Linked DNA regions of Homo sapiens. The protein of the gene in region 1 purifies or fractionates together with the protein of each later gene. This does not show direct contact. Each region holds a gene or a part of one and is shown on either strand. Other genes may lie near its edges.

The links.
Region 2: the proteins of MAG (region 1) and PLCB3 purify together in Homo sapiens (affinity purification with mass spectrometry; one large-scale study listed by BioGRID and IntAct). This does not show direct contact.

The regions. Positions count from the first base shown.
Region 1 is NC_000019.10:35,290,867-35,295,106, reverse strand, and holds the start of MAG (myelin-associated glycoprotein isoform a precursor), read right to left. Parts: upstream 2,947-4,240; 5' UTR 2,903-2,946; intron 873-2,902; 5' UTR 817-872; intron 1-816. UniProt on the Homo sapiens protein: Adhesion molecule that mediates interactions between myelinating cells and neurons by binding to neuronal sialic acid-containing gangliosides and to the glycoproteins RTN4R and RTN4RL2.
Region 2 is NC_000011.10:64,261,359-64,265,109, reverse strand, and holds part of PLCB3 (1-phosphatidylinositol 4,5-bisphosphate phosphodiesterase beta-3), read right to left. Parts: intron 3,711-3,751; coding exon 3,614-3,710; intron 3,530-3,613; coding exon 3,445-3,529; intron 3,159-3,444; coding exon 3,034-3,158; intron 2,925-3,033; coding exon of another isoform or gene 2,851-2,924; exon of another isoform or gene 2,744-2,850; intron 2,704-2,743; coding exon 2,549-2,703; intron 2,464-2,548; coding exon 2,302-2,463; intron 1,613-2,301; coding exon 1,513-1,612; intron 1,420-1,512; coding exon 1,315-1,419; intron 1,090-1,314; coding exon 998-1,089; intron 160-997; coding exon 6-159; intron 1-5. UniProt on the Homo sapiens protein: Catalyzes the production of the second messenger molecules diacylglycerol (DAG) and inositol 1,4,5-trisphosphate (IP3).

The DNA.
Region 1 (4,240 bases):
TCTTTTTTGTGGAAATGGTTGTGGAGGTGGGGTCTTACTATGTTGCCCAGGCTGGTCTTCAACTCCTGGCCTCCAGCAATATTCCTGCCTTGGCTTCCCAAAGGATTACAGGTGTAAATCACCATGCCTGGTCTGCTGATATTTTTTAACTTTTTACTTTTTGAGATGGGGTCTCAGCCCTGTCACCCAGCCTGGAATGCAGTGGTGCAATCGTGGCTCACTCAACTGCAGCTTCAATCTGCCAGGCTTAAGCGATCCTTCAGAGTAACTGGGACCTCAGGTACACACCACCATGCCTGGCTAATTTTATTTTAGTTTATTTATTTGGTTATTATTATTATTTTTTTTAGAGATGGGAGTCTTGCCATGTTCTGTGTTGCCCAGACTGGTCTTGAACTCCTTGGCTCAAGCGATCCTCCTGCCTCAGCCTCCCAAAGTGTTGGGATTACAGGCATGAGCCACCTCACCCAGCCTGCTGCTATTACTTATAATTATAAACCCTTCTATGGCATTGGCCATGTGCCAGCCCTCACTGCTTATTCTGCTGTCTTAACTCATTGGATCTCTTTGAGGAAGATGCATTATCCTCATTTTATAGCTGAGGTCCAGAGAGGTTAAGTGACTCGCCCAAGGCCACACAGTTGGTCTGCAGTCTTTGCTGCATGTCCTGTCTCTATGCAGTGATGATGTGCTGATCATTATCTTTGTCACCGTGATGCCCCTGGAGATCTCCAGAAAGTAAGAACCAGAGAGCCAAGGCAGGGCCAGCATTGCAAAGCTGAAGCAAGGGAAGAGAGTTGGTACCCTGCCCCTCACCTGAATCTCCCTGAGTTGGGGACGTCTTCTGGGTCCACCTGAAGCCGCCAGACAACCTGCATGCAACAAGAGTCACTCAGGTGCAAGGGGGCGGGATTGAGGCACCCAACCCACCCCCGCTTCAGTATCTCCTGCATGGGTTGTGACCTGTTGTCAGGCTGCCCATGTGGCCCTCCCATTGTGCCTGGGACCCTCCCACACAGCCTCGAAGCCACTCTCTGGCAACAACTCCCTCCAAGCTGGGGTGTCAGAGAACTGTGGGGAGGGAAGGGGGAACGACCGCATCGGGGTACGGGGGTGAGACTGAGGGGTGTGGCGAGTGGAGTGAGGGAGCAGATGTCCCACGGCCGGGGCCTGGGGGTGGCGGGCAGGGACCCAGAGCCATCAATGACTGGGTTTCACAGTATCAGCATTCCCGACATGCCGCGTGAATTCCTGCCGCCCTCTCCCACCCCACAGACGGCCCCTGGTGTCCGCACCCTCACCAGAAGCTGGTCCCCGGTACAAAAGAGTCCTGTTCCCTCGGGGAGAGGGTGTTTTAGCCTGCGGGGGGCTTTCAGGGTAAGTGGGGAGTAAGAAAGGGGTCAGGCACTCCTGGCTGGCCTTTGAGCAGGGCCAGGAAGGCCCAGGGTGGGGGCTAGCGAGCCCCTGGCACCCTGCTGCTCCATGGGTTGCCTTGGGGTTGCAGCCAGGGTTTCCAAGCAATTGCTTTTCCCAGCCTTCACCGCCCTCTTCCCACGGACAGAGACACATGCACAGACACATCCAATCGCGGGGATGAAATGTGACAGATGTAGCCCCAGCCAGAAGGGGCAGGCACACGCAGCGGAGACTCATACAGACACCCAGACAGGACCCTGAACACACAGACAGGCACAGGGACCCCTGTGCCCACAGGGATGGGCTGGCACTCACATAGTTCCCAAGGCGTGCATGCAATGCCTCTGCTGCTGTCCACACACACCTGGACAGACACAGCCCTGGCATTCAGCACACACACACACACACACACACAGCCCAGCATGCATGCCAGGCTAACAAAGATGCAAGGAACTGCACACACACACTGAGGATGGCTATAGACGCGTCCACTCAGACACGCGCCGATGGACACCTGGCCGACGCTGCCCTTGCACCTGTGACAGGAAGGTACAGGAGAGAGATGCAGATGAGGATGAGCACGTGCCCGGGCAGACATGAAACAAGCAGGTAGACCATGCACTCTTAACAGCGGGGAAAACAAGTTCTCGGGATGGGGGCCAAATCAACCTCAGCTATTACAGTGTGTGTGGCCACAGTCCATAAACATATGTACAGCAGATCTGTTGGATTAAAATGCCAAGGGAAGGATGGGATGAGGACAAATGCATCTAAAAAGTTTCTGTAGTTGGGGCCGGGCGCAGTGGCTCACGCCTGTAAACCCAGCACTTTGGAAGGCCAAGTTGGGAGAATCTCTTGTGCCCAGAAGTTTGAGACCAGCCTGGGCAATATAGTGAGAGTCCCGTCTCTTAAAAAAAAAAAAGTAACGAAAAATAAAAAGTGTCCTTAGTGGGGATTAATGAAGAAAAGTCGACTGAGGCTTACAGAGGAAGGTGCATGGGCAGCCATGTGTGTGCACGCACACGCACACACACACACACACACACCTGCTATGTGCCCAGGTGCTAGAATGCAGTCACTAACAGCCCACTGCCCCCATCCACCTCCCAGATTGCAGCCTGCAGGTGTCTGATCACCTGGACATCCTTCCATTCTTCGGCCAGATGCAGACCTCCTCCACCCCATCTGCCCCGCACTCGGGAACCCCAAGGAAACCTCTCCTGCAAAATCTTCACCCACAAGGGGTGCTGAGGGGGGGCCCTTTGTTTTTTCTCTCTGTGGTTTCTTCCCAGAGCCCCATCGCTGCCCCAGCGATGGTCCGAGCCCATCCCCAAAGCAGCCCCAAGCCACACACTCCTGCATCCTAAATCAGTAGCGGTGCACAGCGATGCTCCCTCACCCAGAGCACCTGACCCTGCTCACGTCTGGGTGCCACTGCCCCGGTGCCCTGCTCCCCTTGCCCTGGCCTCCCTGCCACCATACTCACTTGGACTCAGTTGCTTCTGCACCTCTGCTCCGCCAGCCCAGCTCGCAGTCCCCTGCCTTCCAGGGTCTAGGCCCCCACTTGCCAGCCCCTCCCCTCCCCCTGGGTGCCAGGGGCCGCCTGCCTCCAGGGCCCAGCTCCTCCCTACCCCCGGGGGAGGGGGGCACAAAGGGGCCCTTGTCACCACGGGGCTCGGACTGGGCAGCCTGACGCCTGGGTTCTCCTAGCTCTTTCCTGGAGGGGTCGGGAGTGGCTGCCTTGCTCTCTCCCCATCTTCCATCCCTGTACACCCTGATTCTGGGTCCCGGGGGTGGGGGGGCAGTCTAATCTCTTTGGAAGTCCCAGGCTGAGGGACAGAGGCATTGTCCTCAGGGAATCTTGGTGGCAACATTAGGTGGGCAGCAGGAGGAGACAGGTCCTTTCCACCCTCAACGTCAGTGTCACCTCCTCTTGCCATCTGAAATGACCTTCCGTGTTCACCAACTCCTTTCATGAGAACGTGACCTCCACCAGGCCAGAAGCTTCGTCTTGGATATTCTCAATCCATCCTTGCTCGTAGACAAGCTCCTGGCAGGCAGTTGAGCTTAATAAACAGTGTGGGTGGTTGAATGTGTTCCCCAGAGCCCCAGGGCACCTTCAGACTCAAGGCCTGTGCACCTGCTGCTCATTCTTCCTGGAAAGCAGTCCCCACCCCATAGCACTCCCCACTCTGGCACTGGCTGCCGTTCACCCATCCTGTAGGCTCAGCAGCCTGGGTGCCGCTTCCCTGGGAAGCTTTCCCATCTTCGCCCATCAGCCAGGCCCCTCCATTGCAATGCTGTCCTTTCCTTCTGTAGCCTTGGCAGGCTGGCCCGTGTGCACCCTAGGTCTGCCCGCCTCTGCCTCCCACTAACCCAGGAGCTCTCAGAGGCAGGGGCTCACCAGAAACCTATCTGCCTCTCTGTCTGTCATGTGCACCCTTCTGTCCCCGGGGCAGTGCTTGGTGCACATAGGACTGTGCTGACCAAGTTGGGCAAGGACCCTCTGAGTGCAGATTCCACCCCTTGGTCATGACTTTTGCAAGGTGGGTGGGGGCTCGGGGCAGCTGGAGGTGGCGTGACAAAGTGCAGCAGTGATTTCACCATGAGCTGTTCAGCCTCACTGGGACATCTCCTGTCCTCCTTCAGGCCAGAGCAGTGGGGAGGGGGGGTCCTCGCTCTCAAGGGAGAACCCAGGGGGTGAGGGGCGGGGAAATCCCTCAGACCAGGGAGAGAAGCGTTGTGGGGCTGGGGGGGAGTTGGAGGGGGAGGGGGAGTCCCACCCCCACCCCAGGCTTCATGATGTCAGACTCTGCCCGTGCCT
Region 2 (3,751 bases), on another chromosome or scaffold:
CTTACCTGGGCTGCTGAGGGAGGTGCTGGCAGGGGAGGTGGTGGGGCCAGGGGGCCGGCGGGGGGAGGCATCCAGTGGGCTGGGGGTGGGGTTTGAGGACGGCTGAGACCCCAGCTGCTGAGACTGGGTGTCCTGGCACGTCTCTTGGCCAGCCTGAGCCTATAGGGAGAAAGGAGAATGCTCTTTTCAGAAATGCTGTTCCCTCCAGACCCTTCTGTCCTCTACCACCTCCTGGGTCCCCTAGCACCCCTGTCAGCCTCCCTTAGTCCAAGCCACTGCTGGACTGCTCTGTAACAGGAGGCTGTCTGCATGAGAAGAGCTATAAATCAAGCCTTTCTAAACCCCTTTTCCACATGGGCTGTGGGGAAGATAACATAATGCCAGCCCACTGCATGTGCTCAGTAACTCCCAGATTGTTCTGGAAAGGCCTGGCCCAGCCCCAAGCCTCCTCTCCTCCCCTGCCTGTGTCCCCCAGCCTTGCCTACAGTCGCTCATTTTCCTTGCTGCTGAGCTCCTGATTAAATCAACAGAGGACTCAACCGCAGAGTGGGCACCAGCCTCTCCGCTAACAGCTCCAGGCAGCCCTAATTGCAGTCATCTCTCCCCGCCCGCCTGCCGCAGGCCCTGGGGGGACTGGATCTGGAAGCGCAGGTGAACCTCCGTGCCTGACCCCTCCCCACGGAAGCCACTGCCCTCCTCATGACTCCCAGGACACCACGTCTGAACAGCTTCTGTGGCTTCGCACTGCCCTGATGAAGTGGCTGAGACCCCTGTACCCCCACTCCAAGCCTACATGGAGCTGGAGGAATTCCAGCCCAGGTGTGACCTGAAGGCCTCCTGAATGCAAATGGGTGGTTTTCATCTCCTCAAAATCCCAGGGCTGCCAAGCCTACTGCGCTAGAGAGACCAGAAGCCCCCTCCTCATGTGGCCACAGCAGTCATGTCCAGCGGCCCCCTGGGTCACAGTGAGCCTGAGCCCTGCCCTGCCCCGGCTCACCTCACTCTCCCCAATGAGGGCGGCCAGCTGCCGGGCCCTCTGGTCCATCAGGCTGACGTGCTTAATGGGGTTGATCAGGGCCTCCGCATAGTCTGGGGGGAGGCAGAAGGCCAAGGTCTCAGAGACAGAGCCCCCAGGCCACCCCCACCCGCCACCTCTGGTCTCAATGAGGAATTCCAGAGCTTGTCCTCAGATCTGTTCCCTACTCAGTTCCCTACTCAGTCGGGGCCATCCAGCTCGGCCACTCCCAGGCCCTGGGGGTGGCCCTTGTCCCTCACACTCCCTGGCCAGGCAGGCCCCGCCCACCCCCAGCTCACCCTGGTGGTCGTCAGGAATGTAGTCCGAGGCTTCGGTGTAGATGAGCAGGGCCGGCAGGCACAGCGGTTGGTTGGCCTCGTTCCGCAGGCAGACGTAGTGGTATCCTGGGTGGTCAGGAAGGCAACGTTGGGTTGCTGGGCCAGGTGGGGGCCCTACCCACTGCCCGCTGTGCTGCCCAGAGCCCACCAAGGCCTCACCGGAGCGGATGGCAGAGACAGGCAGGATCCGGTGCCCTACGAATTTACCCCCCTCCTCAAAGGCTGCAATGCGAAGTGAAGCCAGCGTGGGCAGCACCACCTGTGGGCCAGACTGGAGCTGAGCCACAGGGCTGACCCTGGGCCACTGTGGCTACCAGGCCACAGCTAACCACAGCCATCAAAGCTTAACAAAGCAGACCTTCAGACGAGCTGACCTACTGACCATCAGTCACCATTGCCACTAAGCTGATGGCTGACCCCACTTCCATGTCCTGGCCTAATGGATGACTGCAGCCATCAGGACCCTGAGGCAAGATGACAGGCAGCCAGGCCCCTCCAGGGCCCCCACAGACAGTTCTGGTCATTGCCAGTTTAGAAACGGGAGTGAGTCATGAGCAGGAAACCAAGAACACACATGCCCAGGCTGGGAGCAGAGGCCGCGTCCATGCAGGGCCGTGCGGGGTGCTGAAGAGCGGATATGAGCTTGGGGTTGTGACCTCAGCTCCTGCCTCGGAGACAGGGTAGGCTGTGTCCACTCCTCGCAGGGGACACAAGACGTCTAGCTGACACCCCCCAACCCCCATCTCACCTTCTCACCCTGGTCTCTTACCCTAAGGAGGGCAGGGAGACTGACGCTCGGACAGGCAGGTCCTGGGGGACCCATGGCACCCCCCACTTTCTGATCCCCAGTCGCCAACGGTGTGCCTGGTTCCTGTTCTCCCACCTGAGAGTCGGGGCGGTCTGGGCTGGATCTGCCTGTGCCTGGGCGGGTGCAGGGGCCAGGCTCACCTTGGGGAAGTCGAAGGGCTCTTCGTCCCACACGGGGTTGAACGAGTTCCCCTGAGAGGTCCGGGTGCGGTACTTGCGCCGCGTATCAACAGGGAGGCCAAACATGTCCACCTCCACGTAGATGCCCACCTTCCTGTCGGACAGGAACTGCCCTGAGATCACCTGGGGGTGGGCCAAGGAGGGTGAGGCGGATGCTGAGAGTCCTGCCCCCAGGACACCCCTGGCCTGAGCCGCCCGCAAGCCCCACCTTGACCCGCAAGGCATTGGCCACGATGCCATCCACGATGACCTCAGTGAAGGGGTCGAAGGACTTGTCCGGCCGCCGCATGAACTCCGGCTTGAGCAGGTACCCGCTGCGCCCGTTGTACTCAAAAACGCCCGCGTTGAGCTGCATCGCCACATCTGGGGTGCCACGGGCACGTCGAGCAGGGGCAGGGATCAGGCAGGACGGTGCCATGTGGGGAATGGGAGATCATCAGGTCAGATGGCATCCAAGGTCCAGGGTCAGGGGCGGGCTCAAATGGCATCAGGGTCCGGATCCAGGACAGATCAGACAGGGGAGGGGTCTGGTATCAGCCAAGGGCAGGAGGCGGGGTGAGTCGGGAGCTGGGTTCCCCTGGGATCTGGGATGAGACAGGGTCAGAGGTCCATTCAGGCAAGACCAGCAGGATCGTGGGTCAGAAGTCAGTAAGACTGAGGGTCGGGGTCAAGATGGAGGGGGCCAGGGCTCACCGAGGGTCTGGAAGTTGAGCGCAACAAGCTGGCACCCTACGTTCCAGAAGAGCTGGGGCATGTAGTTGGAGGAGTCCACGCGGGTGCCCTTGGGGTAGATGCGGCTGAGCTGCTGCTTGTTGTATCTGAGATTGGTGGTCAGGGGCCACACAGGTGCCAGGGCCCACCCCATCAGCCTCCACCTCCGGCCTCAGCCAGGTGCTCCTGTGACCCCCACACCCGGCCTCTGTTTCTTAGCCTAGCCATGCCCCCTGAGACTGCCTGGATCTGCCCAAGCCCCAGGCCAGGGTGCAGGAGGGCCGCCGGAGGGCCAGCACCCTGTGCAGGTGGCATATGTGGGGACAGAACACCGGAGCCGGCCTCCGAGCGCCCCACCCTGGCCTGCCCGCCCACAGCACCTTCAAAGGATACTCCACAAACTCCATGGGGCTCTTGGTCAGTTGCTCCATGGCCTTGGTCTCCACAAAGGACGACATCTCGAAGCATTTGTTCCTCTCTTAGGGGTGAGCCAAGAAAGGGCGTCAGACCTGGCAGGGCTGAGCTGGGCAAGCTCCCATGCCTGCCACCCACCCCCACTCACTTCGAGCAGCCTCAAAGGACTTGAACTTGACAGGTTCGATGTAGTTGACAAGCGTGGACATCTCCTCAGTGGCATTCACCTCGCTGCTGGCTGTGCCCTGTGGGCCCCAACCCAGGGTCAGCAGTGCCATTCCCGCCA